Regions from separate parts of the Homo sapiens genome. Here region 1 is linked to region 2. Evidence: fine-mapped expression QTL. A gene starts in region 2. The other region holds a variant in brackets. All regions are shown on one strand. Distances are from middle to middle.

Evidence for each region.
Region 1: its variant is fine-mapped to the expression of DUSP8 in whole blood (TOPMed, PIP 0.93).

Annotation. Positions count from the first base shown.
Region 1 is chr11:1,451,385-1,466,459 of GRCh38, reverse strand. BRSK2 (BR serine/threonine kinase 2) reads right to left here. Exons shown (of 20, transcript NM_001256627.2): 15 at 15,041-15,075; 16 at 11,852-11,975; 17 at 9,932-10,112; 18 at 9,773-9,862; 19 at 7,221-7,268; 20 at 3,771-5,960. The coding sequence ends at 5,737. Among named protein-coding and RNA genes, the nearest start is that of MOB2, 28 kb to the left of the region's middle. RefSeq lists enhancers at 7,918-8,480, 12,732-13,441. The variant C/A (reference allele first, on the strand shown) is at 5,650.
Region 2 is chr11:1,564,488-1,579,562 of GRCh38, reverse strand. DUSP8 (dual specificity phosphatase 8) reads left to right here and starts at 7,292. Exons shown (of 7, transcript NM_004420.3): 1 at 7,292-7,662; 2 at 13,629-13,967. The coding sequence starts at 13,737. KRTAP5-AS1 (KRTAP5-1/KRTAP5-2 antisense RNA 1) reads right to left here and starts at 6,822. Exons shown (of 2, transcript NR_021489.2): 1 at 6,495-6,822. RefSeq lists enhancers at 6,597-7,142, 7,691-8,238, 9,754-10,692, 10,693-11,631, 11,632-12,570.

The sequences.
Region 1 (15,075 bases), 110 kb after region 2:
CGTTTCATAAATAGAGAGCATGGCCCTGAGGGTGGAGGTGTCAGCACAGAGGCAGAGTTGGGACCCACAGAAGGAGTTCCCAGGCCTTGCTGGGACGGAGGAAGTGTACCCAGCTGGATTTTGGATTTCTTGGGAGCAGCGACACAAGCACCTTGCAGCTTTCTCTGTGTGTCACGTGTGTGTGTGTGTGTATGCACATATAAATGACTGGGTTTCACCGTCACCCAAACTGGAGTGCTGGGTAATCCTAGCTCACTGCAGCCTCAGACTTCCGGGCTCAAGGGGTCCTCCCCCTTCAGACTCCTGAGTAGCCAGCACCACAGGTGCGAGCCACCACGCCCGGCTGATTTTGAAATATTTTGTAGAGTTGAAGTTTCACTACCCAGGCTGGTCTTGAACCCCTGGACTCAGGTGATCCTTTCTGTCTCAGCCTCCCAAAGTGCTGGACCGTCACACCCAGCCAAACTTTCCTTGAAAACAGGAGTGTCTGTGACTGGCATTCCGCGTCTGTTCTCTGGTCGTATTTTGGGAGCAGGTAACTGGTTTTCTAGCTTTCGGGGTCCACAGATGGAGAGGAAACTGCCCCAGGGTGGAATGCCCAGAGTGTCACCCATACCTGATCGGGGTAGCTTAGAGGGTGCGACTTGCGACTTGTGAGCTGATGAGCTGTACGTGAGGTTTGGGACTGGACTGGGTGCTGTGTTTGGTGGAGACTGTTGGGGCCGTGAGGGGAGGGATGCATTTGCACGTGGGATGGGTGTGAAGCAGCGGGAGTGGGAGGGTACTGCGTTCGGCCTGAGACATCCCTTACCACTGGTGATGTCCACATCTAGTCCCATGGAAGTGAACGTGCCACCCAGCAGCAAAGGGGAATGAAAGCAGCGATGGGATTAAGGCAATCAGCTGACCTTGAGAGGCAGAGATGGTCTGGGCCCAGTGAGAGCACGAGGCCTTCATCGTGGAAGCTGGACGCAGGTTGGGATGCGCAGGACACAGCTGTGAGGAGGCTCCACCCACGCTCCTGGCTGCGAAGGTGGAGACCCCAGGCCACGGGATGCAGGCGGCCACAGGTCCTCCCCTGGAGCCTCCAGGAGGAGCACACCTTGATTCTAGACCAGGGCACCCCTTGAGTGAGACCTGCCCAGTCCTTGACTCTGGGACTGTGAGGTATTGGTGTTTTAAGCTTCTTACTTTGCGGTAACTATGGCGGTGATAGGAAACCACAGGAGACAATGCATCTACCAAGCAGGCCAAGGCGTTCTTACAGGGTCCTGGGGGCAGGTGCACAAGAGGGCCCAACTCCCCGGCATGAGACCCACAGTGTAGACTGTGCCAGTCTGGCTGGCACGAACGTGGCTCCCCGGGTAGTGTTCCCTGCACGTCTGTCAGCCCTGCCCGCTCTCCAGCAGGCCCCGCTGCCTGGAAAGTCGCCACTGGTTCTCCCTCCTGTTGCTGGCCTCCTCCTCTCTGGCTCTCTGCTGACCCCGACCCCTTGCCAGATCACACCAAGAGACTTGGGTTGGTGGTAGGGAGTTGGGGTGGGATGGGGAGAAGTCACTGGAGTGAGTGGGGAGGCACTGGACTTAGGGCAGAGGGCCTGGGCACCACACCACTGGAGGGCAGGAGGCAGGCAGGACGGGGAGGCAGGGCCAGTCCACCTGTGGTGAGCTCCCTGGCGGGATGGGAGCAGGGCAGCTGGAACGCCCCACCTTGAAGCTGGCATGCGGGCATCAGCCTCCTGCAAGCTCTGAGGCTTTGTGACACCAGGAATTGTTCCATCTTATAGCTTAGGAGGCTGGGGCTCTGTGCCTCTGCCTTCAGCTGACGGAAAAGCCCAGGGCAGGCTCCCCATGGAGCAGACCTAGGCCTGGACTGCTGTGTGCAGGGCCCCTCCCTGGAGCACCCACCTCCCACCTGCATCCTGTACAGGAGGTGGGTCAGACTGTCGTCCCCCGCCACCCACCTGCCATCCCATGGGTGGGCTCACCAGTCGGCTCGTTCACCAGGGCCCTAGCTCTCAGGCCAGGCCGTGGCAGGCTCTGAGCCCAGATGTGTCCGTCGGATTAGCCACCTGGGAACTGAGGACCAGGACTGTGAAGCCATCCTCTAGGTGGGCAGACCGGCCACCACATCCTTTTTCAATCTCCATTTTAATTTCTTCATAGAAATGATGTGAGGACCGACTGGTGTAAAGTGAGACTAGTGTCTGCCACATCAGAAGTCCTGCCATATTTGTTTTCATTTTTTATATAAACCAGCAGATTCTGGCTTAGCTCGCTTTGGGTTCTGTTACTTACAACCAAGAGAGCTTGGTGTCAGAAGTGGGACTGCAGGACACAGCCCCTTCCTGAGCAGTGGGGAGCTGGCAGGACTCTTGACACACTGTTTCCTTTTGGGCCTCCAGTCATGGGCCTGAGAAGGCTGACTTCTCACCGTGAATGTTTAGAGGAGGGCCAGGAGTGCGTGTGTCAGCCGCTCTCAGAGAAGCAGGTGCAGGACCACAGGTCAGGAAGGCTTCCGGTCCAGGGCCAGTAGCCTGCGACCCCACAGACTGTCCTGTGCCTCACTGAACCGTAGCAGCCAAATTCCTTTCCTCAGCCTGTTTCTTAAGGTAAAATGAACTGGGAAACTGTAATCCAGGGATTGGAATGGATCCTGATTCCCTGGGCCCCTCCCAAGTGCCTTCTCTTCAGGGTACCAACCTCCTGTGAGCTCAGCCACTTGGCAGTCCAGGGTCAAACAGAGGACGGCTCAGCTTCCCTCTGTGTCCTGGGCTCTGAGCGGAGCCCTGAGCTAACTAAGCCTGACTAACATGGTGACCCCCTGGCTCCCTCCAGAGAGATGGGTACAGGCACAGCTTGAAGTTCAGGGCAGTGGCTCTCACCTGGGGGTGATTCTGTCCCCTACCAGGAGACTCATGGCAATGTCTGGGGACGTTTTGTCACAATGGAGGTGGGACAGCTACTAGCTTCTGTTGGGCTGAGACCAGGGATGTGGCCCCCACCCCATCATCATCTCCCCCCTCAGCCATGTGCTTAGCACCTGCTCCAATGATAGACAGCTGGGTGCAGTCCGGCGCATCTGAGTCCTTCACGTGGGAGGGAAGTGTGCGTGGGCCTCCCAGGGCAGCTCTGTGGACGCCGCAGTCTCTGCGTGGACCCTGCTGAGGCCTGCTGCTGGCCTCCTCCAGGCCGCGGTGGACTCCCGGCCACTGGCCTCACACAGCATGGGCCTGGACTTGCCCTTCTGCTGCGGCGGCAGAGGGGCAGCTGGGCCAGGGCGTCGTGCCAGTGGAGCCCACGGCCCTGGCTGCCCTCTGTGGCAGGTATGGCTGGGACCATCCCCGCTCTAGCTCCAGGGGCTGTGCTCAGCCTGGGCCCCTCACTCCCAAGGCTGGGTCATGGCACCCTATCCGGACCCTTCCCAAGTAAGGAGTGGGAAGAAGGCTCATTCTCCAGGAAAAGGCCCAGGCCCTGGGTGGCCGTGCAGGCCTTGTGGGGTGGCAGAGGTGCCGTGCAAAGAGAGCTCCGCCCAGGCCCTGGCCCTCAACGGGAGCCCGCCTCAGGCTGGGGCAGCCTCGGGGGATGGCCCCACACATCGGAAGTGACCTCTGACCTTGGCCGCCCGGAATCTCACCCTCTTCAGCTGGGCAGAGGGTAGCTGCATTCACACTGGCGCAGCCCAGGGGCTGCAAGTGGGGAACAAGAAGCTGTCCCGGGCTGTCACAGAGCCCTGCGCGCCCGCCCTGCCCAGATGAAGACCTGCGTCGCTGTCTTTGCGGAAGGGATTTATTGTTCCGGAGCTGCAGCTGCTCACAGTTATGACAGGGGTACACTGCAGGGGCTTGCCCATTTCCGTGGCGCCTGCTGGAGTCCGCGTGTGTCCGAAGCACAAAAGGGGAAGGCAAGCAAGAGGCAGTTTGCTTCGTGTCCTCGATCTCCGTGGAGAGCCCCTTCCCGCCTGTACCGCCTGGCGTTTGCTGTCCTAGGTGTTTGCTTTTGTTCTTATGTATAGAAATCCCAGCCTGTGGCAGAGGTCTAATGTTAACAGAAGCGTTAAAATCTATACACGAGGTGGGTGGGAGGCAGGGGCAGGCACCGAAGCAGACAGACGACTCCATGGCAGAGGCATGCATCAGACCCGCCGTCCCCCACGGCCGCCGCACCCGGGCTGTGCCCGCCTGGGAGGGCTGGGCACATGGGCGGAAGGGAACACAGAAGCTGGAGCTGGGGTGAAGCACGGCGGCGGGCACTGGGCAGGGTGGGCCTGCAGCCCTCTGAGGGCTGCGCCCTGGGCCTCGCTCTGCACAGAACGCCCTGCAGAGGAGCGCCACCGACTCTTTGTCCTTTTTTTTCAATTTTTTCATTTTAATAAGAAAAGCCTCACAGTGCCCCTGCCGTCCTGTGTGTGGGGAGGGCCAGCTGAGGGCCCTCCTCCTACCCCTTCACCTTTGGACACAAAACCAAGATTGCCCCAGCCTGACAGAGGGGCGCTGGCGCTGCCGCCCGCTACAAGACACCGCCCCTCTGCCCCGAGCCCCCCCAGAGGTGGAGCTGCTTCTCCACAGAGAGACGGAACCCATGACAGAGCGAGCCGCACCGTCTTTAGATGTGTGTGTAGAAAGAAGCAGGAGCAAGGGACTAAAACACAAAACCTGGCCCTGCCCCAGCGGCGCCCCCACCCCCACACCCTTTTCCAAAAACCACCAAGAAAAAAAAGTTTATAAAAATATCTTGCAGGAATTCTTTAAAGTTTACAGTAGCTCGCCAGCCCCCCCGCGCCCCACCAGCTCTGTCCTCAGAGGGCGCCCTGGCCCCAGCCCCCCCACTGCCTGAGACACGCAGACGGCAGGGGATGTGGCCGCCGCCCTTCCCTGAACAGAGGTGCGGAGAATCCATAAATTAAAACGGCAAATAAATAACACTGATCCCAGCCCAGCGGCCTGGCCTGCTGGGAAGGCTCTGGTGCCGCAGGGTGTCTCTGTTTCCACCTCAGCCAGAGAGGAGCGCCAGAGCCCACAGCCGCCCCAGATGAGGCAAGGGAGGCGCGGGTGAGACGAGAGGACGGGAGGCAGCCTGAGGAGGCCAAGACTACACGGAGGCGGCGCAGCCAGGGAGGCGGGGCACGGGCCTGCGAGGAGGCCTCCAGGTGCGGCGTGGAGGCGGTGGACGGGGCCTGTTCCTGTGGCTACGTTGCCCACCAGGGGTCCTGGCCCCAGAAGGCCACCAGGCAGGCTGTTCTTGCTGAGGGGTCAGGTGACCGGGAGTCCGGGTCGGCCGGGCTGGAGGAGGCTCCCCCGAGCCTGGCCTTCCTCCCACGGGCCGTGCGGAGCTGAGGCGAGGAGCTGCCGCGGGGTGGACGGGGCGCTGGGCTGGGCCTCACTGCCCGGCAGCAACAGCAGGAGCGGAGGGAGGGCGGGTCCGCAGCAGCTGCCTTCGGTCACAGAGGATGGCCTCGTGGAGGTGACATGTTAACTTTTCGGGATAATTCCTGGTATCAGAGTGGAAACAAGCGATGCTGTCAGAGACAGGCAGAGGCAGAGACAGAGAGAAAAGAGAGCGGGCGCGGGTGGCGCAGCCCACAGGCCGGCCCCAACGCCCCTTTCCTTTCCTCCCAGGCTCTGAGAACAGTCTGGACGGACGGGCGGCG[C/A]GGCCGCGGGTCCACTCGGGGCAGGGCGGGCGGCGGGCGGCGAGGCAGCCGCTGTCAGTGCTGTGCTGGGGGGGGGGGCTAGTGTGTCTAAGGCTGCTCGCGGCGGGCGGTGGGCGGGCCCATCTTGGCCGTGTCCTTGCCCGTTGGGTACTCGGCGTCCCCTCCGGGGCCAGGGCCAGCGGCCGCGGAGTCACCGAGTGGGCCGTGGGCACTCCGCTTGGCGGGCGTGCTGGGGGCCTGGGCCGCCTGCCCGTTCTTCTCGTCTGAAAAAAGTTGTTTAATTACGTCAAAGAAGTTACTCAATGGGCTGCCTGGGTACACAGAACAGAGACAAAAAAAAAAAAAAAAAGGAAAAAAGAAAAAAAAGGGGGAGAGAAAGAGGAGGGGAGGGAAGGAGAGAGAAAGAGAACAAACAAACAAATGAACGAAGAGGCCTCGACGAGGGAAAGAACCCAGAGATGAGGCTGAGATGGGGCCGAGCGGGGACCGGTGGGCGGCAAGCAGGGTGGGCAGGCGGCGGCCGGCAGGGGCCCTGTACGCTGGGGGCTGTGCGGTGGGGAAGCTGTGCGCCGTGGGGCCAGGAACTTAGGACCCCAGCGCCTCCGAGCTGTTGCGCAGGACCCAGTGCTCCTTTGGCGAAGCGAGGCTCGGGGCAGGTGGTGAGACCCCTCCCTCCCCACCAAGGCCTGGCCCGGAAGGCCCTGCCCCACCCCCCTTCCCTCCCCACCTTGCAGCCGTGAGGGCCGACCCACCCCAACGCCGGAGATGACAGCGTAAAGACAAGGGCCTGCTGGGAGCTCTGAAGCCTCGCAGGACCCTGGGGGCAGCTGCTGGCCCCACTGCATGAGGCCCAGTGGATGACAGGGAGAGGGTGTGCCCACCACACCTCCCCAGAGAGGCCTGAAGCCCGACCCCTGGCCAGCTTGGACACAGTTTAGCAGCAGACAGACAGATGAACAGATGGGTGGACAAGCATGGAGGGGTGGATGTGGGAGGCAGGCTGGGGGGCTGGGGGCAAGCAGCTAGAGTCATGTCCCGGGTCCCTGGGATGGGGGCAGTCCTGAGAAGAGGGGCGGAAATGGGGAGCCCACCCTTCTTGGGGCCCTGTGCTCACTGCCCAGGTGTGTCGATGGAGGCCCCTCAATCCCACTTCCTAAGCCTAACCCCCACCTGAGCCCTGAGCTGTGGGCCCCTCCGCTCCCTGCCAGGCACAGCCTCCAGTGGACAGAGGGATGGGCACCGGCCCCTCCCCTAGGCCACAGCCTGCACCAGTGGGACCAGCGGGACCCTCACTGGCTTCAGGCCTTGGGAGCCCCTTCTTGGGCCTGCCCTGATCCTAGGGCCTGGCAGAGGTGAGTCTGGCCAGGAACCCCGCCTGGGCTTGCTGTGGTAGGGGAGCGACCTGGGCTGCTCCTGGTAGAGGATGGGGCCGGGGACATCTGGGCTGCTGGGTGCCTACATCTACACAGGGAGGCCGGGACAACCCGGGCGGCAGGTGGCGGCCACAGCGGGCTGAGGGTGAGCGGTGAAGTGGCAGGTGGAGGTGCCAGGTGAGCGTGGGGGATTCTTACCACATTTGGAAAGCCGCCCCGTCATCATTTCCATACAGTTAGTGGTGTCTGGAGTACAGAATGGAGAGAGGAGGGAGGGAGTGAGTGAAAGGCTGTCCTGGGCCTTCTGGCTGGACGCCCACAGCCTCGATGGGGAGGGGGTGGAGCCAGGAGTGGGTAGGGCCCCAGAGGCATGGGTGGGGAATACTGGGGGGGCCAGAGCCAGAGGGGGCGGGGCTTATAAGGGGCAGTGCAGGGGCAGGGCCTGGAGTGAGGCGGGGCTGCGGAGGCAGGGAACAAGGCGGAGCCACCTGGGCAGCAGCCGGACCTCCAGCAGCCTGAGCCTGAGCCTGGATATGGCCGGTGCCCTGGGTGGGCCTAGCCCCTCCCCTGGGCTGACAACTCTGCCCTGGCCGTGGCCTGCATCCTCACTGTGCCACTCAGCAGCTCCAGGGCCCTGTGGCTTCCGGCTGCCCTTCAACTCAAGGCAGGCACCCTCTTCCTCGGCCCTCTTCCCTACTGCTGGGCCTGGGGATGTTGGTGCTGCCAGTCCAGGACTGGGGTGGGAGCAAGGCCCTGGGAGGGGCTACTCCCTCAAGGCCCTCACTGGCGCCTGCACAGGGTGGACACACGCCCTGGTCTGCCTGTGCCTGCTCACTGGGGGCTCTCAGCCTCCCCTCCCTCGGCCGCAGTCTCTGGGGGGGTGGGCAGTGTCTGAGGAGGCCCCCTGCTGGCTAGCCACCTTCCACACATCCTTGGAGCTGGGCTCACTGGACAAAAGCATCCAGTGTGGGAGGGGGGCAGGGCTGGGAAGGGCTGGGCGTAGCGAGATCACGGGGATAGGCTGGGCTCCCCAAGTCCACAGGGAGATAGATGGGGCCCAGAATAGACCCCCAAGAGCCTCTGCAGTGGGCTCCACTGAGGTCAGGGTCCGGGGCAGGAATGGAGAGGGGCTTGGAGTTGGCTCCAGGGGAGTGCTGCGTGCTGACAGGCGGTACCACACTTTAAGGGGCCAGGCTGGGGGAGCTTTGCCTACAGCCCACGCAGGAGCGCTCGACTGAGGCACCCAGATGGCTGCTCAGGTGCGGGGACACCCTGGGCAGTACCCCGGGGCCCGTTTCTGCTTGCCCTACCAGACAAGCCCTGTCCATCCCTGGCCTAGGTGGCTGCCCTGTCGTTCCCTGGCCTCGGTTTCCCTTCCTAAGATGAAGGCTTTCAAGGCTCAGAGAGCCAGAGGCTGCTGCCGGCCGACGGCATGGCCTCCGCTGTAGGGAAGCGCCACGTGTACCTGCGGGGCCGAGCACCTGGAACCCTGCTCCTCCTTACCCGCTGTGCCAGCCTGGCTCCCAAAATCAGGAGAAGGGGGCTACTCCTCCACCCACTGGGGCTTCGGTTAGGGCCAGGGCTGTTGGGGACCTCAGCCCCCAGCCCGCAGCAAGGTGAAGCACACTCTGGGGGGGCTCCCACAGGTGATGGCATGATGATGGAATGAGGATGTCATGGGGAGGGGCAGTGGGGCCCTCTTTGGCTTCCAGGACCCCACATGGAAACACAGGAGGTGACCCTAGCATGCCACGGAGCTGCTGAGATGCAGGCTGGGAGAGGGGACCCCCAGGGTCCAGCCGGGTGCTCCCCCACGACGCCCAGCGCCCCCACGCCGTACCAGCGTTCAGAGGCACACCCACACCCCCTTGCTGACAGACCAGGCCCATGCATGTGCCCAGTGCTCCGCCCTGCCCCCACCACACATGGGCCCAGGGGAGTGGGGGGAGCCCTCCCTGCCGTATGCCGAGTGGCACGGACCCTCGGGTCCTAGACCCTGGTGGTTCCAGGCTGGGGCAACCCTCCCCTGTGTGAGCCCATCAGGCTGTGGTGAAGCCCCCGCTCTGGCTGGGCTCAAGCCCCTCTGCCCTGCTGGAGGCATGACCCTGGGCTGTCAGGAAGTATGGAGAGATGAGAAGTCACAGCCCGTCAGGCAGCCCGCGGCCCTCCTAGGGTGCCATGGCGGGGAGTCCCGAGGGCAGGGCCTTGTCACTGCTCTCCCAGGTCCTGTGCAGGCTGCCCTAGCAGATGGGCCGCCCGGGGCATGCTTGGCCTGTCCAGGGCCGAGACCTGTGGGTGGGCATGGAGGGCCCTGCTCAGGGCCAGCCTGGCTCCGCCGAGGACCTGCCCGCAGCCCCTCCCCGCCCCAGCACAGGCCGGGCGCCTTACCTGCCAGCGTCAGAGGCTACTCTCGTAGCTGGTGGCCACCTTCTGGCCCTTAAGCCCAGCACCCCAGCTTAGTCCTGGCGCTGGTGGGGGGGGTTCTACGGTGGACAAGAGGCGCCTTTCAGTGTGGTGCGGCTGCGCCCTATGTCCCTGGCGTGCAGAGGCGAGGCGGGTGGTCCCGCCAGGCCAGGGAGGGGCTCTGCTCCCTGAGGGGTGCAGCCACAGCTCGGGGCAGGGAGGTGGGGGCGTCCGTCAAGAGGGGCCAGGAGGCTGCGCCCGGGTCCTCACGCCTCCCGTCCGCGCAGCACCAGCTGGCCACGCCCCACTCGCAGGCCGCAGGTTGGCCGGAGCTGAGCCCGCCTCACCTGACAAGTGCTGGGCCGCAGGCGGGTCGTGTGTGCTCAGCAGCTGGGCCTGGATGGTCTCCACCACCCTCTTGAAGCGACGGCTGGGGCCTAGGGGAGACAGGGGGTTATGCCCTGGACGGGCCTGGGCCCGGAGCCGCCCTGGGGGCGCCAGCTCACCTGAGAGCAGGGTGAAGGTGACGGAGTAGATGCCGTTCTCCTTCTGCGCCTCCCCACCCTCCGTGTAGGTGATATCAACCTGGAACTTGACCGGCTTCTGGAACACGGCTGGCCCCCCCGTGGCCTTGTACTCGGCCCGGAAGCTCGTTTGGGAGATGACGCTGTGGCTGAGACTGGGAATCTGTGGAGAGAGAGCAGCGTGAGCGTGGCTGGCCTGGCAGGTCCCACCCTGGCCCTCTGGGGAGGCAGCCCTGGGGCGAGCCAGCCCCACCGTGCACACATTGTGAGCACCCAGGCACCTCTGCTTCCGTGAGGGGCACAGTGCGGTTGGAGACGGCTGGAGCAGGGGGAGGGGCGTTTCCAGCCCCCACCCTCCAAAGCTTTGGTCCACTTAGCGGGCACAGCTAAGCCCCTGCCGGGCTTTTCTCAGGCAGCCACAGCACAGGATGACCAGGACCTTACAGAGGAGCCTTAAGGGCAAAGATGGAGGTGGAAGGTGACCCCTGCAGCCTGAGGTGGGGGTCCAGGGTGGAGCTGAGTGGGAGGTGGGGGGTCTGGGAGCTGCCACTGAGAGGGAGGTGCAAGGGCGGGGCTGGGGCTGTGCCCTCCTGCTGGGGCTTCCTGGGACTCCCACTGGTTGCGGGACCTATGGTGCTGGGCACTGGCTGGGTGGGCTTCACAGTACCGAGGGGGCAGCTGCAGGAAGCAGAACTCAGGGCCACCCAGCGCACAGGGCCCAGGCTGGCACACAGCCGCCTCACTGGGGCCGGCATGGGGAGGGGCTGAGTCTGAGGTTAGCCGTGGCAACCAGGGGCAGCATGAAGGGATGTGGTGAGGGAGGAGGCCGAGGAAGTGAGCAGCCTGTGGGGACGGGGACGGGGACGCTGAGGACCCCTGAGGCCAGGGTCCAAGTGCAGTCTGAGGCCTGCCCTGCCCAGCGCTGGGCTCTCCTGGCCCTGGAGCCTTCTGCAGGGGCTCCAAGCTGTCCCCACAGCGTAAGGGAAGCTCAGCTGCAGCCAGGGCAGCAGTGGCCTGAGTGCCCGGGGGCAGAGCATATGGTGGGGTGGGGGCCAGTCCCTAGCTAGAGAGGCTGCCGAAGCGAACCACGGCCTGATCTTGCCAAGACCCTGGGGCCAGGGAGGGCGCCCGGGCAGTGGTGAGCACAGGGCAGGACAGCAGCCCTGGGGAGGCAGGCTGGGGGCGGTGGGGGAGGCGGGTGGGGGGCAGCCCCTGTGATGCCTGGGCGCTGGGTGCAGCACAGGGTGGGGCAGGGCCGGCAAGGAAGGGGCGTCCTGATGGGACTGGGTGCTGGAGTCCTGGCAATAAACTTTCTCCATTTGAGGCTTTTAGGGCCTTTCTGCTCCTCCTAACCCAAAGATGCCCAGCAAAGACAAATGAAGCCCACCCAAGACCCCGAGCGCGACCACTCTGTGGAGAGCCACCCGGCCTCCGAGGGCAGGGTGAGACCAGGGAAACTGAGACACCTGAGGGCTGGGGCTGTCCACTGAGGGCCAGCAGAGCCCCACCGGTCCCTAGGGCCATGGCCTCACAAGGGCTTCTCCCCGAGTCTGATGGAAATGTCCCCCTCTGAGACCCACCCAGCTGGAGCCTTCCTTCTGCCCCACGTGCCAGCTGCCCAGGCCTGTCCGGCACACACCTAGGGCTGCTGGGGACCAGTGAGCAAAGCCCTGACTCCCTCCGCAGGCCAAGCACCCCAGATGGGCAGTGACCCCTCCCTCACGAGGGTGGGCAGGAGAGAGCGCCTGTCCAGTGAAGGCGGCCAGGCAGGCCCACGGGTGAGCGGACGTCCGTGCTGTGCGCGTGGACATGTCCTGTCTACGTGAGGAGGCTGGATTCTCGGGGCTGGGCCGTGTGGGGTTGGGAGGGCTGCCCGCCTCCCCCAGCGCCCTGTGGCCTCACCGACAGGAAGGCGTGCACGATGTCAGCCTTGATGGAGCTCAGAGGTTTGTCTTTGATGACCACGAAGATCTGCTCCTCCTTCTCCAGGCTGATGAAGTTCCCAAACCAGGACTTCTTCGCCAGCCTGGGCAGTGGGAGACAGAGGCTGTGAGGATTGAGGTGTGGCACCGTCCACACCCCTGCCTCCCTCGAATCTGGGGTTGGAACGGCGGAATCTTCCATCGCTTCGTGATAGAAACGGCTGTCTCCACAGTGCTAGCCAGAACCCATGGCCCTGACCCCAACGCCCTAACCCTAGCCCATATGCCCTGACCATCACCGTGGCTCTAACCCCAACCCCAACCCTAACCTTTCTCCAAGCCCTAACGCCCTGACCCTGGCCCATATGCCACCCACTCCCAAGTCTGGGGATGCCCCTCCACAGGTGAGCCCCCCACAGGTGAGCCCCCCCTCACCAAGGCCGCTGTGAGAGGTGGCTCAAGCTGGGCTCCTGAAGTCAGCTGTGCCCCCCACCCCCAGGAGCAGGCGGGGCCTGCAACTCGCTTCCAACAGGAGAGTGGGGAGGCGCTTCTGAGGCCACAGAAGGCTACTCCTGTCTTGCTGGCAGGCTCACCCCAACATGCAGAGGCCCTCTGCTCTCCAGCTCAAGAGCACCCGAACCCCACCCACCAGCGCGGGGGCCAGGAAGCCCAGCCGTGAGAGGACCATGGCCAGAGGCGCCTCTAGCACAGCCCGAGACTCAGGCAGAGCGCGCCTGGGTGGCTGTTCAGAGGTGGCACGCTCTGCTGGCGTCCCCTGCCGTTGCTGCCTGGAGGTGGAACCAGGTGTGCTGAGAGGCAGAGGCAGGGACCGGGAGGAGGGGCCAGCAGGGCTGGGGCTCAGTGGTGCCCTCTCCCGACTGATTCTGAGGCCCCTCCCAGCGGCCTCACAACTCCCCTTTCCCTTGCCCATTCCTGGAGCTGCCTCCTCGGCCACTGTGCGGCCTGGGAGTCCTGCCGGACAAGCACGGGGACCAGGTCCAACCCTCACTCAGCCCCTCGACGCCTCCTCAGTGTCCTGCCGGTCTCGGCGGCTGTCTGTTCTGGGTTCAAAACTCCGAGGGCCACCACTGGCCCTGACCTTACCCCAGCCCCATGCCAGGGCCTGGAGCCAGGAAGTGCACAAAGCAGCCTGGCAGTTCTGGAAGCACAGGTGAGTTTCTACATGGTCGATGTTCTGCCCGATGAAGAGACAGGACAGATGGTACAAACGTGACTCTCTGCTTTGCGGCCCAGGGGTGCAGCATTTGGCAAAAATAGTCCCATGTGTGAAAGATGCCTGACGGCCCAGGGAGGCCAGGCCGACGAGGGGTGAGGGGCCTGCACTGTGACTCCAGCACCCACGTGGTGGGCAGTGCACAGCCTGGCCGGACACTAGTCTGGGTGTTGCTATGAAGCTATTTTTAGATGAGACGAACTTAAATCAGTCGCCTGTTGAGTCTGGCGGGGGACCCTTCCTCACAGGGTGGGTGCATCCGCCAGGTTCGGTCTTCCTGGGGAAAGAACGCCCCTCGAGGCTGCAACCTGGAAACTGCCTGGGCTTCCAGCTAGCACTTCAGACTCAAGGACATCAGCCCTGAGTGTCCCAGACAACCGCATGCATCCCTTCCTGAAGCCAGCTGCCTCCCTTGGTGCTGTTCCTCTGGGGTGCCTGGTTGACATGGGGCTGGCAGCAGCTGGGGCTGGGGGTTATCTCAGGTCCCCAGCAAGCGAGTTGTCGCCAAAGAGGGACTGTGGGAGGCATCCGTGCTGGACCCTCGTCCAAGGCGTCTGTGCAGGACCCTCAATAAGGGCTGTCACAGGCATCTGTGCCGGGCCCTTGGGTGGGGCTGTGGGAGGTGTCTGTGCTGGACCCTCGGGAACGGCTGTCGCAGGCATCTGTGCCGGGCCCTTGGGTGGAGCTGTAGGAGGCATCTGTGCTGGACCCTTGGGAAGGGGTGTCTGTGCCGGGCCCTTGGGTGGGGCTGTGGGAGGCATCCGTGCCGGACCCTTGAGAGGGGTCAGGGCCTCCAGGCCATCTCAAGATGGGGGAGGGGAGAAGCGCAGGCAGCCACAGTGGCATCAAAGCCACCTTCTCGGCTTTGATGTTTTCCACCTTCTCTGAGGAAGATAATTATGAGTCTGTTCATGAAAGCTTTTGGTAGCAGCAGAAACGGCAATGTCAGGGCCTAGGCGGAAGGTTCCCAAGTCTGCTGAGCCCTGTGCATCTGGGCTTGCGACAATACCTACACACCTCCGACCTGGGCACCCAGCTGGAAGGGCCACCTGATCGGCGCAGAAAGGCCACTGGGTGGAATCCTGGCACAGGCTGCAGATGCTGCTCCTGGGGCTTAGCACTGAGCAGTTTCCACAGGGGCCCCTGGTTTAAAGCCAGCAGCAGGACGAAGGTTCTCGTCTTACTCAGTCCACAGCTGGCCACATCTTCATTTCCCGGGGTCTCCTGTGAAGTGACTCCAGCCTGACCGCCGCTCTCTGCCGCTGCCTGGCCTGGGGTCACGCTGCAGGCTCATATGTGTACACCGCCAGTCGCCTGGTCTCCGAGACACTGCCCAGTGACTGAGGCCATCGTGGAGAGGAGGGAGAGGGCCTGGGCGCTGGGAAGGGGTCTCTCTGGGGACATCTTTGTCCAGACACCAGTCACAGCGGCCCCCAGGGCATCTCAGCACCTGGGCGCTGTAGAGTCTCTGCAGTGGCACCTCTCACGGCTCAGAAAGGCGGCGGGGCCAGACCTCGGCTTGGCTGCTCCGCTCCGCCCCTGCACACGTGTTCCCACCAGGCCTGCTGCCCCTTTGTTCTTAACACGGGCTGCTTTCTCCTTGAGACCTGAGCGACCCGGTCTCTGCCCTTGGCGAGCTCAGGCCCTGGGGAGACTCTGCCCAGTGTACCCCCTGCTCGCCTCCAGCCAACCCTAGGCTCTCCCAAGGCCTGAAGCTTCTCAACAGGGCTGGGGGCTCCTCCCCTGGCTGGCCTTCCCCTCACAGCCGGGAATTCGAACTTCAGAGACTCAGTGGCCGAGACGGGCCTGCCTGCAGTGGGAGGTGGGGCCACGTGGAGAAGGAGCACCCCGTTGGCCATAGGGGAAGGGTTCCATGCCCCTCTCCCGGCCAGCCTGGTGTCAGGTACCAGGAGGCCTCCAGCAGGGGCCACTTACTCTGGGGACGACTCTGGTGTCAGGTTGGACATCTC
Region 2 (15,075 bases):
TGAGACCAGCCTGGCCAACATGGTGAAACCTCGTCTCTACTAAAAGTACAAAAAATTAGCCAGGTGTGGTGGCCCGTGCCTATAATTCCAGCTACTTGGGAGGCTGAGGCACAAGAATCGCTTGAATCTGGGAGGCAGAGGCTGCAGTGACTCGAGATTGCACCATTGCACTCCAGCCTGGGTGACGGAGTGAGACTCTGTCTCAAAAAAAAAAGGAAAGAAAAAAAAACAGAGAGAAGTTAAATAAGATGCATGTTGTTTAGAAAAAACAAACCCTAAATATCAAGATCCAGGAAGATAGAAAGCAAAAGAATAAAAAAAAAGATATATTAGGCAAACATTAATGTTTTCAAAAACCTAGTATAATGATAGTAAGATCAGACAATGTGGACTTTGAAACAAAACCATTATTAGAAGAGATAACATTTCATGATGATAGGAGAGTTCATGCAACCAAACAGAAAACAATCCTAAACTTCTATGTGCCAAATAACTGAGCTTTAAAACATATAAAGCAAACATTGACAAAACTAAAATAAGAAATAGATAAATCCACAAATACAATTGGGACTATAATTGGGAATGTATAGGAATAATTGGGAATTTTAATGAACCTCTCTCTCACTCCACACAATGTGCCAGCTTCCCCAAACCCTCAGACACTCTGGCCTGCCCAGCAGCTGCCAAGAGGGGCCAGTAACACCACCTGAAGATGCAGGGAACTTAATTCCTCGGGAGAGCAACTCTGACCTATGAGAGCAGAAGACAGGAAGGAGCTTGCAGAGAAACTATTCTCCCTTCCTCCTCCCTGTGGACCATTCTGAGGTGGAGCATCGCTGTATGGTCTCGTGGGAGAGGGTGTGCAGACGTGGCCAGCTGAGCTGCAACTTCCAAAAAGCCACAGCAGCTGAGTAAGAAGCAGCCTTGCCTCAGCTTCACCTCCTCCCTGGCTCGGTGTGTTCCTCCCTTCCAGAAAATGTGTACACTGAGCTTTGCATCTGGCTACTTTCTGGGGAATGGAAGCTAAGACTCCCACCATCACCATGTCCACTTAGCATTATAATGGTGATGCCAGCCCATGCAATATGACAAGAAACAAGCAATGTGAGGTTTGGAAAGAAACGAAAGTGCAGATTCATAGATGATAGGGCCATCTACCTGGGAAATCCAAGTGAACCTACAGGCGGCCTGCTTGGAGGAGTAAGAGAAGTCAGAGAGGGTGATCGACAGCCAGCCCATGACAGGCAACAACACATCAGAAATTGTGGTTTTTATAACCTTTCACAAAGCAACCGAAATCATAAGCTCAGGAGTAATATACGCAATGGGAAGACTGTAAGGCCTCCCTGGGGAAGATTATAAGGCAATATAGAAGGACGTCTTCAAACTAAATATGGAGTCTGTGTGAGAAGACACTCCAGTGTCCTCCTAGTCAACCCATCAAGTAATGCAGCTATAATCAAAATGCATAAAATCCCAAGTGTTGGCAAGGGTTTTATTTTATTTTATTTTGAGACAGAGTTTTGCCCTTGTTGCCCAAGCTAGAGTGCAATGGCACAATCACAGCTCACCGCAACCTCCACCTCCCGGGTTCAAGGGATTCTCCTGCTTCAGCCTCCTAAGCAGCTGGGATTACAGGTGCCCACCACCACACCCGGCTAATTTTTGTATTTTTTAGTAGAGATGGGGTTTCACCATGTTGGCCACGCTGGTCTCAAGCTCCTGACCTCAGGTGATCCGCCCACCTCAACCTCCCAAAGTGCTGGGATTACAGGTGTTAGCCACCATGCCCAGCCCTGGCAAGGGTTTTAAATGGAGTTCTTCTAGCCTGCTGGCAAGTTATTAGAATTCTCCACTCAGGGCAACTTTGCAATATCTGGGGACATGGGAGTTGGGGGCAGGGGGCGCTGTGGCTCACGCCTGTCATCCCAGCACTTTGGGAGACCGAGGCGGGCAGATCACCTGAGGTCAGGAGTTCGAGACCAGCCTGGCCAACATGGTGAAACCCTGTCTCTACTAAAACTACAAAAATTAGCAGGGCATGATGGCAGGCGCCTGTAATCCCAGCTACTCAGGAGGCTGAGGCAGGAGAATCGCTTGAACCCAGGAGGTGGAGGTTGCAGTGAGCTGAGATCGCACCAGTGTACTCCAGCCTGGGCAACAGAGCGAGATGCCATCCAAAAAAAAAAAAAAAAAAACTAGGAAAGAAAATAATCCTGTAATCCCAGCATTTTGGAAGGCTGAAGGCCAAGAGAGGAGGATTGCTTGAGCCCAGGAATTTGCGACCAGCCTCGGTAACATAGTGAGACTTCATCTCTACAAAAAAAATTTTTTTTTTCTGAGATGGAGTTTCATTCCGTTGCCCAGGCTGGAGTACAGTGCCACGATCTTGGCTCACTGCAAGCTCCGCATCCTGGGTTCAAGCGATTCTGGTGTCTCAGCCTCCCGAGTAGCTAGGATTACAGGCACGCACCACCACACCTGGCCAAAAAAAATTTTTTTAATTAGCTGGAGATGCTGGCACATGCCTGTAGTGCCAGCTACTCAGGAGGCTGTGATGGGAGGATCCCTTGAGCTCAGGAGGTTGAGACTGCTGTGAGCTATATTTCCACCAGTGCCCTCTGGCCTGGGTGACAGAGTGAGATCCTGTCAAGAAAGAAAAGGAAGACAGGAAGGACAGAAGGACAGAAGGAAGGAATGAAGGAAATGGAGAAAGAGAGAGAGGGAAGAAAGAAAAATAATCTGAGAAGTGTGTTACAAACATGTAAGAGTTGGGTGTGGTGGCACGTGCCTATAATCTCAGCTACGGGAAGCCTGAAGCAGGAGGATCACTTGGGCCCAGGAAGAGTTCAGTCCAGCCTGGATAAAATAGAGGGATCCCATATCTCTTTTTTTAAGCATATACAATAGGATGCTGTCTGCTGCAGTTTTTTTGTTTGTTTTCTTTTTTGTTTTTTGTTTGAGATGGAGTCTCGCTCTGTCACCCAGGCTGGAGTGCAGTGGTGCGATCTCGGCTCACTGCAAGTTCCGCCTCCCGGGTTCAAGCAATTCTCCTGCCTCAGCTTCCCAAGTAGCTGGGACTACAGGCGCCCGCCACCACGCCCAGCTAATTTTTTGGATTTTTAGTAGAGACAGAGTTTCATCACATTAGCCAGGATGGTCACGATCTCCTGACCTCATGATCCACCCGCCTCGGCCTCCCAAAGTGCTGGGATTACAGGCATGAGCCACCGTGCCCGGCCTGCTGCAGTTTTTTATAGCCCAAATATGAAAATAATCTAATATGTAAAAAATAAAGAATTGGTTCCACTCTTGCCATACACCCATGAAATACAGAACCACACAGACGTTATCATCAGGTTGTGGGAAAGCAGCAATGTGGACGAATCTCAAAAGTATTTCCTTAAGGCCAAGCAAGGTGGTTCACGCCTGTAATCCCAGCACTTTGGGAGGCCAAGGTGGGCAGATCACCTGAGGTCAGGAGTTCGAGACGAGCCTGGCCAACGTGGTGAAACCCAATCTCTACTAAAAAATACAAAATTTAGATGGGCGTGGTGGCGGGCGCCTGTAATCCCAGCTACTCAGGAGGCTGAGGCTGGCGAATCGCTTGAAACCGGGAGTCGGAGGTTGCAGCGAGCTGAGATCGCGCCACTCCACTCCAACCTGGGGGAACAAAGAGACTCTGTCTGGAAAAAAAAAAAAGTATTTCCTTGAGTGAAAGATGCCAGGGGCAAAAGTCCTCTCATTGTTTGTTTCCATTGTTTCCATTTTTATAAAGTGTACGAACAGATAGCAGTAACTCACGGTGACAGGTCAGAGGGTGAGGACAGGGCACCAGGGAACTTCTGGGATAATAAAGTTTCTAGGTCTCATTTTGATGGTGATAAAACTACATATACAGTTGTCAAAACCCATCTACTGGCTGGGTGCAGTGGCTCACGCCTGTAATCCCAGCACTTTGGGAGGCCAAGACGGGAGGATCACCTGAGGTCAGGAGTTCGAGACCATCCTGGCCAACATGGTGAAACCCCATCTCTACTAAACACACAAAATTAGCTGGGCATGGTAGTGGCCGCCTGTAATCCCAGCTACTTGGGAGGCTGAGGCAGGAGAATCGCTTGAACCCAGGAGATGGAGGTTGCAGTGAGCTGAGATCGTACCACTCCACTCCAGCCTGGGCGACAAGAATGAGACTCCGTCAAAAAAAAAAAAAAATCTACTTGAATAATGGGTGCCAAGGGCTGGGGAGGGGGTTGGGAAGTTGGTGTCTAATGAGGACAGAGTAGAGTTCCAGTTTTCCAAGACGAAAAGCTCCAGAGATGGGTGGTGGTGACGGTTACACAGAAAGTGAATGTACTTAATGCTGCCAAATTCACTTAAAAATAGTTAATATGGCACACCGTATGTTCCTGCATGCATTTTACCACAAGAAAAAATCATACGGTTTTTAAAGAAATAACGGGAGAAAAAGTCTACTTGAACAGCTGGGATGGGCATTGTATTGAGTTAGCTATGCCTTGACTTAAAAAAGTTGGGGAAATAGTGGCATGGAGGTTTGCTACACATAATTAGTTGCAACGATTATATGCACATTAGCGAGAAAAGTGAACCCCACTGTTCCTTCTGCGCAATAGGGATGCTTTAAGAAACGACCTTGGACGTCCTCCCGGAGGCGAGAGGAGCTTCAGGCGGCCGAGCCTGCGCCACGGCCTGCGGACGGCAGAGGGCGCGCGCGAACCGCCGGGCCGGCCCCGCTCGGACCCCCACCTGCACGGCCCGGAGCGCGCGTCCCCGCCCCAGGCTGCTGGACCCCCGCACGTCCCTCGCCGCGGCCTTGGCGCCTCCCCGGCCCCTCGCAAGGTCCTCCCGAGCCCCAGAGACCCCCGAGGCGGCGTCTACAGGCCCGGGCCGGGACTGACACCGCAGCCCCCTCCCTGGTCGCGCCTCCCACCCCCGTCCACACCTGTGCCGGGAGGCGGTGCGGCCGCCGAGCTGAGCTGAGCCGAGCCGACCTGGTCGGGCACCCAGGCCCCTGAGCCCACCGCCCAGGCCGGCCTCTGCTGGGTGCAAAGGCAACGTGGAACTAAGGCGGGGCTGCAGAAAAACCACCGTCCTCCCCAGGGTGCCACCTCCCTAGTCCGCCAGCCTGGTTAGGGGCAGAACCTAACGCTCTCAGTGCTTATTTGCATGAAAATGGCTACGGGGATTATAACAATCGCCGCCCAGGGCACTCTGCCCCCCAGGGACAGCCCAGGCCCTCCAGGGGAGCCGTATTCCCCTCCAAACCGCCCCCTGGGAGCCTCCAGGAGGGACTAAAGGTCGCTGCCTGCCACCTGCTCCAGCCTGGCCAGTAGCTGCCCAGGGTATAACCAGAGCTCTTAGGGGACAATGGGCACTCCCAGGCCACAGGCAGATGCTGGCCACATCCCAGCTGGGCAGAAGACACGCCCATCGGGCTCACCTAGGCCTGGCAGGGGGAACAAGCCAGGTGAGGCTTCCCCCCAGGCGACAGCCCCTCTATCTAACGGCTAACAGCTCCCATGCCTGCGGGTCCCAGGTCCTTTCAGGCCTGTGACTGCCTCCTCAAGGACCTCCTTCGCCCCCTCCGGGTCTCAGCCTGAATCCTCCTGCCCCCTCCCAGGGCCAAGCCTCCCCCACTTTTCAAACCCAGCAAGGCTGCAGCAGGCAGCCCTACTCACCTGGCCCCGCATCCGGGTCCGGCACCTCCAGTCTCAGGGTCCCCCTCCAGCCAGGGCCTCCCTTCTCGCAGGGCCCTCCCGCTTTGGGGCGCAGCCCCAACCCCAATAACCCCTGGGCTCCCTTCCGGGACAGACCCACTCCCGCCAAGGCGTTTGTTTGTGCTGTGTGCCAGCTCTGCGCCAGGACGCACTCCACCGCCACCCCCACCCCATACGGGCCACTGCCGCTCCCCTCAGGCTGGCCAGGGAAGGGAGCTGCAAGCGCTTATTAATCGCCAACGGTGTACTCAGCTCTGAGGCTGGCAGGAAGACTGAGTATGGAAAGGGGGAGCCCCAAACCCCGCTCAGCATCCCCTGCTGCCCACAGTACTCCCCACCCCCAGCCATCACCATTGGCACCCTGAGCTCCGTGGTCCTGGTGCCCACTGAGGGTTCTGCGGTCGTTGCGCCAGCTTCATTTTCTGTGGCCCTTCATTCAACCAGCGGCCGAAGCCCCCTTCAGAGCCCCAGGGTGACCCTGGGGGGCCCAGGCTGGCTGGGGGCTCGGGGGCAGAAGGCGGATCCCCCCACGCTCCCTCTCCACCCGGCAGCGGGGAGGGGGCCTTTTAGAAATGTCTAGGGTGTCTCGTGACAACCCCCCCCCGCCAAAAAATCATTACTTTCAAAGGCTCCCAGGCTCCTGGGCAGGGGTCTTTGTCCCCTTCCTCCAGGACAGCGAGGCCTCCCCCGCCCTCCCCCTGCAGCGCGAGTCTGACCCCCTTGCTCCCGCCCAACACCTGCCGAAGGTGCAATTACCCGTGCGTTCTTCCTGCCCCGGACTCGCCGCGTCCCCGCCGCACGCGCGGAGGTGTTCCCACAGCGGTCGGCGGGGTGCGGCCCCTCAACAGCCCGCACAGGGGTCGTCGGGGCGGCTTTCCACGGAAGCGGGAGGGCTGGGGGTCGTGGGGGGTCGGCGGCGTCCTGGGGAGCCCGCCCCCGGAGTTCGCGGATGTGTGACCCGAGGCAGCCGGCTCGCCTCTGAGGGTCCCAGGTCCGCCCGAGTGCAGGGGGATCCGGCTCCGTCCTGCGGGGGTCGCGGCGGGGCGAGCACAGCCGCTGCAGGTAAAACGCCGCGCCTGGGTCTGGGGAGGGCTCCCCGGCGGCGGCCCAGCGCCAACAAAGGCCAGGAGAAGGGGGGAGCGGCGCCGGCGCCTGTCCGGGTCGGGGGGAGGACTTCGCGCCCGGAGCCGCTCAGCTGGACCGTCCGGGGTCTGTGCGACGCGGCCGGGGGCCCGGGTGACGGGGGGCCTGGGTGACGCGGGGCCCGGGGCCGGGAGGGCTTCCTGGAGGCGGGGTCCCGGACGCCGCGTGGTCCCTTTAAGAGCCGGTCCCGGGGTGAGGGCGGAAGGCGGCGGCGGCGCGACCCACCCGCACCCTGCACCCCGCCCCCCCCCCGCGGCAGCCGCCTCAGCTTCACCCCGAGCCCGGGCTCCGCTGACGTCACCTGCCCCCGAGCCGCGCGCGCTGATTGGCTGCAGGTGACGTCAGGGGCTTTTTTCGCTCGGCATGACCTCATCCCCGCCGGCGGCCCCGCCCTCCGCCCCGGGCCTGTCACTCGCGGCCGAGCGCGGCGGCCGAGCCGGCTCCCCCCACGACGCCCCGCCGGACGCCGGACGCCCGAGCCCGAGCCCGAGCCCGAGCCCGAGCCGCGCCGGAACCTCCCGGCCGCGCCCGCCGAGCCGCGGGGCTGGGATGCGCGCCGCGAGCGCGCGTGCCCGCCCGCAGTGCGCGCGCCCCGGCCCGAGCGAGCGCTCCCCGCGGCGTTGGCGGCGGCGACGGCGGCGACGGCGACGCGGCCCGCGCGCTCCCCCGGCCCCTGCCCCGGCTGCGCGGGCCCCCGCCGGGCCCATGGACGGCGCGGCCGAGCGGGCGCCCTGAGCGCGGCGCGGGTCCCCGGAGCGCCCCCGAGGCGAGCGCGAGCGAGGTGAGCGGAGGCGCCGGCGGGGCGGGGGCGGGCGCCGGGGATGGGGTTCACCGGCCCGGGCCGGGGGGCGGAGGGCGCCGCGTCGGGGGCGCTGGGGCAGCGGCACCCGGTGGGCGCCCGGGAGGAGGAGGCGGCCCCGGAATGAGCGGCCACGGCCGTCCAGGACGCCAGGGACAGGGAGGCCCCTTCCCCGCCCCCCGCAACGCCCGGCGGACCCGGGCCCAGCCCACGCCCGCCCGCCGCGTTGCCGCCCTTCTCCCCGCAGCTCCTTCTTTGGGTGTGGAATGGGGGGGGGACAAAAATCCAGGACCCACCAGGGCCGCCTGAGATCCAGCGCGGATCTGCGCGAGCCCCCGACGTCCCGAACGTCACCCCCGCGGGGGCCAGAACCGGAGCAGGCGGACCCTGGCCCGGAGTCGGTCCGGGAGGTGTGGAGCCTCGGCCGTGGGAGGGACGCGACGGCCTCTGGCCTGGGACACCCGGGAAGGGGCCTTCCCCTGTCGGGGGGGAGGGCTGCAGATCCATCCCCCCAGTGTCCAGGCCGCACTGCCTCCCCATCCCGGGGTGCCCAGCCGGCCCCTGAGGGATAAAGCCCCCGCGCCCTTCCGCCTGCTGCAGAGGCAGCCGCGGCGCTGGGGGAGGGGCTGGCACAGCCAGGCTGCTGCAGCCACCTCGCTAGGCCCAGCTGCCCAGCCTGGGATGCGGAGCAGACCAGGTGGGGATACCTAATAGTCTGGCCTGGAGGGGAGGGGGCAACAATAGGCCCAGCCCCAACAGGGTCACCCCTTCTGGGAGAATCTGCCTCCGTCTCCCTGCTGCGGGGTGTACCGGCCTCTGCTGAGGGGAATAGGGGCTCTGGTGCTGCAGTGATGGGGGGCGGGGACACTGTGGGATGGAGGAGGGGGTGGCAGGATGTAGCGTGGCTCCGCAGTGCTCTTGCTGTGCAGCTTGGGGTGGGGGTGGGGTGCTGCAGGCCAGGGAAGCTCCTTTTGTGCCCCAGCGGGGGGTCTGAGGGGAGATCCAAACCCCGGCACTCTCCCTTGCCTCCCTTCTGGCACAGCCCACCCAGAGACACTGTTGCACCTAGGGCGGTCCAGGGGTGAATGTAGCACCCCAGGCCCCAGCCCTCCACCAGGAGGACAGTCCCATGCATTCACTGCTAATAAGCACTGGATGCGGATGGCAGATCATGTGACCCCAGCTGGAAGTTCATCCTGAAGTCTCGCTGAAATACCTCCTGCTGCAGCCAGCCGGGGGCTGCACGAGTGTGGCTGGGCAGGTTCTATTCCCCTGGTATCCTCTGTCCTCGGGGAGGCTTCTGGGAATAAAGTCCCATTAACAGAGGTGCAGAAAGACGCTTAGAGTCAGTCTCTGCTCCAGGACCCTTCTCTTCTCAGGCTGGGGCTGAAGTCAGGGCCTAGAGGCTGCCACTGGACAGGTGCCTCGAAGGGGCATCAGCTAGGGCCTGGGGAGACCTAGGTGTCACTTCTTGCAGAAGGCAGGGAAAGGGGCAGACCCACAGTGAGAGAGAGGTGGTTGGACTCTGGCCATGAGAACTGCACCCGCTGAGGCCCCCTCTGCCGGAGTTGCTCAGGGCAGTGAACCTTGGAAGCGCCACACTGGTCCTGATGTTTAGCATGTGGCACAGTGACCAGGAGGAGGGACACAGGTCTGGTGGGAAGGGAGGGAACCTGGATATGTCCGGCTCTGAGACTCGACTGTCACGGCCCCTTGTGCCAAGTCCTCCCATCCCCTGCCCTGCCCGGACCCCGTTCCTGGGATCGGAGGGAGCCCCCCGCCCCACCCCACTTTCTCCCAGGTCCACAGCTTCCCCAGGCCAGCGGAGCAGAGTGTAGGCCAGCTTGGGTCCTACAGCACTAGCCAAGGGAGCTGAGGGGAGGCAGGGATGAGGGCATCTGGGGGAGCCCAGTGAGGGAAGATGAGCTGACCTGTGTGAGTGCAGGGTCCCTGCCTCCCAGAGTTGCCACCCACCAGTCTCTCCTCAGCCTCCTTAGTGTGACGATTTCTGCCTCCAGAAGCATCCCTGGGTAACAGTGAGCCGGACAGCTCCAAGAGCCTGCCTAGGTGTGAGGGGGAGACACAGTCCCATCCCCCCATGCTTGACAGTCCTGGCAGCTGTCTCTGAAGGTAGTGAGTCCCCATTTCTAGGTGCTGAGCAGAAGGTAACATGGTAAGGATGCTGTCAGTTGAGAGCTGGGGGTGGCCTGGGACTCCCTGGTCCCGTCTGTGCTCAGGGACAGGAATGTGCTGCACAGAGACGCTGGGTGTGGGAGCTCGTGTTTGTAAGGAGTCTGAAGCTGACCCCTCGGGTACTGGAGTCCTGGGGTTCTCAGGGGATCCTGCATACAGAGGGCAAGGACGTGCGTGTACTCTAGTGTATGTCCAGCCCACGCGTGTGCACATATTCACGCGTGGGTACTTGCACACAGGGCAGGTGGATTGTGGGTAAGGAGCACCAGCCCTGTGTGTGGAGTGGGTGTGCAAAGAGGTGTGTTCTGGCACGCACAGAGGGCAGTGTGCACGCAGCACTGGAGCCAGGCGTGCTGTGTCCCAGGGGAGGGTGGCGGCCTGGTGCCTCCTGGAAGGTGTGGGCCTGGGAGGAGCCTTCTTCTGACTTTGGACTTGGAAACTGCTTCCTCCTGGGCTCAAAGACTTTTGAAAAGGGTGTATGGGGCTGTGCTAGGGGGCATCCTGTCCCCAGCCCTGCCTCTCACCCCCCAACCCCTAGGCACTGGAATAGCAGGGCCACAGGTACTCAGGAGGGCTTGGCATGTGGGGCCGTGAAAGGAGAGGCATGGAACCAACACCATCCACATTTCCTTACCTCTGTTCCCACATGGCCAGTGCTGGCCCCACTGATCTGCACCAGACTGTCCTTAGTGTCTCTGCTCCCCACCCCACCCAACCTGCCCCATCCCTGGCATAGCTGAGCCCCGATCCTTAGCATCTGGGGAGACAGAGGTGAGGAACATGTCCCCCTGGGAGCTGTAGGTCCAGGGAGACCCTGTGGGTGAGGATGCTCTCCCAGAGGCCAGCATGGCACAGAGGCTTCCTGCAGGAGGGGGCACTCGGCCAGCCCTTCGCAGTACAGAGAAGGCCTCTGAGGGGGCGGGGAGCCGGCGAGCTGCAGGGAGCATGCTGGGCACAGCAGGTACCTGGAGTGGGAAGGAAGGTTAGGACCAGGTAGGGCAGAGGAGCGGAGGGGCTGAGGACTGGGCTCTGCACTGCCGGGCACCTGCTGGGGTGGGTAGGAGAGAGCAGGGAGGGGCGCGTGCCCACTCTGCAGAGGAGCCTGCTCCATGGTGGTGGCTGCCGCAGGAGCAGCGGTTGCCTGGCACCTCTGCTGTTGCCATGGTGACGATGGAGGTGCTAACTTGCTAATGAATCCCCTTCGGCTGCAAATAACAATACTATTGTGGGTGATAGGCCCAGCTCCAGCTCAGCGTTGCTTAGGAGGCAGAGCAGGGCCAGGTAAAGGCCAGGACCCGTCCTCCCGCCCCTCCAGCCCCTGCCCACCACCCTGCAGCTGGACTTGCCCTCCTCCCTCCCCTCCCTCTGGGTCTCAGATCTGGCTGGCTGCACCGAGGTCTCTCATGGCAGTGTCAGGACTCAGGGCTGCATGAAGGCTAGGCCCTGGCTGCAGAGAGGGCGAGGGCCTCTCCTCACACCTGCCCTCCTCCCTGCACTGGGGGGTATTTGCTTCTGTTGTTTTCAGTGAGAGAGAATCCACCCCCACTTAACGGATGAGGACATTGAGGCCGGGGCAGCTCCTCAAAAGACCCCCAGCCCAAGTGTCCCTGCCACTGCAGCCTTCTCGGGGTTCTGGGTCTCTGAGCTGGACCCTTGGGTATCCTACGGGGCACCTGGAGCCGCTGTCTCACCAGAACCACACATCTGGGCCCTCGCCTCTCACCACCTGTGCAAGGCTCAGGTAGAACTCGGGAAGGACAAACAGCTCATCAAGGACCCCCTGTGGGTAGTCAGGGACCCCCTTGGCAGGCAGAGACCCTCCACAGCAGGCAGGCAGCAGGCCCTTTTGCTGTTGAACTTGCTGGGTCTGGCCCTGGAGAGGACTCCCAGGCCTCGTTCCCCACCCTGTGGTGGAGGCTGGAGCACCAGCCCAGGAACGTTATCTGAGTGGGATCCTGAGGCCCTGCTGACCAGGTGCCACTGCAATCCCTGGTGTCAGCCGTGGGGTCAGCTGAGGCTGCCCATCCACAGTCAGGTGTTTCCCTGGCCTCTGGCAACAGGAGGGATGGTGGGAATGCACAGAAGCCTGGGCCCAGTCGAGGCGGGAGGGGCCAGGCAGGGGCCAAGCTTGAAGTGTCTGGAGAAGGAGAGTGAGTGCGAGGCTGGGGCTCCTGGGCAGGGAGGAGCTGGGACCTGCCCCTCAGTGTGGAGTTGGGGCTGGGCCAGGGACGAGGTCCACACCAGCCTTGCACCTGCTGCTCTGTGAACTCTCTCACTGGCCCCCGCCGGCCTGGGAGCTGACCTGGAGAGTCCAGAAACGGTGGTGGCCTCTGTCCCCAGCCTGCTGTTTGCAGTGCATGGGTGTCCTCAGGGCGCCTCCCCCCAGTGCCTCCTGTGGCTGTGGGTTGGGGGTCTGGCTTGCTGAGGGCCCGCTACCCACCGTAGCCCGCTTTGCACAGGGCGCAGGGCCCAGGGTACATCTATCTCCCAGCCTTCCCTCAGTCCTGAGCTGGGTGGAGTAAACTTCCTGACTGCCTGGCAGCTGTGGGGGCACAGGGAAGATGGCATTGCAGGGACACCCAGTGCCCATCTGTGTGTGACCCAGGTGTGACCCAGGTCCCAACCCTGCCCCAAGCCTCGGTTTCCCCATAGTTAAAGCAAACTCATCATCCTTAACACTATGCGCCTCCTAGGGGCTGTGAGTGTAAAGTGGACCCAGAGGAAGGCCAGTCCTGGCAGGTGACAGGGAGATGGGGCCCGGCAGTGGGGCAGTGACAGGCTTGTCATCAAGCCTGCAGGAGGGGCTTCCGGAGACTCCATCCTCAGACATCCCTACTCCACCTGCCCACCCGGCAGTCTGAGGCCTTTGCAGGCCATGCCGAGGGCCTGGCACCTGCGGGGTCCCCGACACTGACCCTCCTCCCAGGGCTGCCCCGCCCCTCCCATCCTGGGCCCTATCAGCCCATGAAGGAGCCTCCTAGACCCCAGGCTCCGCTAGGGGAGAGGCACTGTGTGGGTGCAACACGCCCCTGCAGGAGCTGGGCACTCACCCCCAGCAGGCACGTGGCGCACACTAAACCTCAGCCTGCAGGTCAGGAGGGCAGCAGTGGCAAAGGAGCCGTGCCTCTGTGCCTGAGCCCCTCCCGCACCCGCCTGCTATCCGGCTGCCCCCGGGAGCCCACTCTCCAGTGGAGGCAGCCCCAAGGCCACCATCCACCAGGGGCTGGATTATCGGCTTACGGAGCTGCCCTGGAGTCAAGTCTCCAGGGATTGGACTCCCTGGGGCTGTGCTAGGGAGAGAGGGGCAGGTGTGAGGACAGCAAGCCCGGAGGAGGGCAGAGAGCTTGACCATGTGGGAGGGTGAGGTGCAGTCCAGACCCCGACTTGCTGGGGGTCCTGTGGTGGAAAAGATGCAGAAGTCACAGCAGGGAGATGCCTGTGTCCCAGGGATGAGATGGAATGTTCTGGAATGCCTAAGGGTCCGTGAACCCCAGGGCCCACAGGAAGGACCCCTGGCCTCTTCCAGCCCTCAGACCCTTCTCTGTGGGGCCCATTTGCCCCCCTCTGCCTTGTTGCATCCTGCTGAGAGCTGGCCTTGTGACCTGGACGGGGTCTCTCCAGAGGGAGAAGGGTTCCCACGGGCACATGTTGGTGTGTCCTGGTGGGCGCAGCTCCCAGCTCTGATCTGTCCTGGGGAGCTTCTGGGTGCCACCCAGGGGCCCGCAGCACTGCTGACCATCCCCCTGTCCCTGCAGGTCCAGCACCATGTGCTAGGTCACTCCCAGCGCGAGGCCACACCTGGGCCGTCGGAGCAGCCCCTCCTCACTTCAGGGGTCACCCTCCCCAGCACCCATTGCCCCACCATGGCTGGGGACCGGCTCCCGAGGAAGGTGATGGATGCCAAGAAGCTGGCCAGCCTGCTGCGGGGCGGGCCTGGGGGGCCGCTGGTCATCGACAGCCGCTCCTTCGTGGAGTACAACAGCTGGCATGTGCTCAGCTCCGTCAACATCTGCTGCTCCAAGCTGGTGAAGCGGCGGCTGCAGCAGGGCAAGGTGACCATTGCGGAGCTCATCCAGCCGGCTGCACGCAGCCAGGTACCCAGCCCACTGCCCACCAGGCATGCATCACGTCCAGGGTCCACAGCTAAGGGGCCCTCAGCTCGGGCAGCACCCCCCTCCTCTGCCTTCCAGTCCAAACTCGACTCCTTGGGGTCACAGCCAGGGGCGTGTGGAGCAGTCCTCCCTGGCACTTGCCTCTCACCGCTGCCTGTTGCCCCTGCTCAGGGCATCCCCCGCACCCCCGCCCGCAGCACCCTTCCCTACCCTCCCTCCAGGGCCTCCTTGCTCAGCTTCTGCACAGAGGTGCCGGGCCCTCCCCACGCAGATAGGACTGTGTGGCCAGGGCCAACCCAGGCTCACAGAGGGGAGCAGTGAGTGGAATAGCAAGGTGTGACCACATGGCAGTGGGAGCAGCCCAGCTGGCCTACACGGGACAGGGACAGCTGTGTGGTCCACTTCCACTGCTGTGAGGACAGGAGGGGTGGTCAAAAGGCACACGTGAGCAGTCCATGTCCCCGTCCCACAGCTTCCCCCAGCCCGCAGAGTATTCAGGGACCCAGAATTCTCTCTGTGGCCCCCCAGGAATGTCCTTCTGGGGAAGGACAGCTCATTCTGCCCAGGACCATCAGGTGCAGCTGGGGAGGGACCAGCGGGGCTGTTGACCTGTGAAGGTGGCGGCACCTCCTCCTTCTACTGCCTCGCAGGGGACAAGGGTGACAAGCTCTTGGCCCTGGAGGCTTTGAGAGGGGTCTGGGTCACTGATAGGCCCTGTTCAGAGCTGGGACATGGGAGGACTCAAGTGGGATGGCCACTGGCCAGGAGTCCGCCCACCCCAAGGCCAGAATCGGCTCCCTTTGGTTTCCAACAAGGGGAATCTGGTGATTAATGACCCCCAGCAAGGACTCCCGGCAGAGTGCGATCCCATTGGCTGCCGGTGACGTCACCCAGCCCAGGGTTGGCGGCTCAGCTGGCTTAAGGGCTGAGTGTGTGCTTGCAGGGCGGGGGCACCGGTGCTGTCTGAGCAAAAGCCGCTCAACATCTGGGCTGGCCCTTGGGGTGGGGGAGGAGGGCAGGAGGAACCCAGCTTCCAGCTGCTGCCTCCGGAATTGGTGCAGGGGCCTGGGGTCCTGCTGCAGCCCTCTGT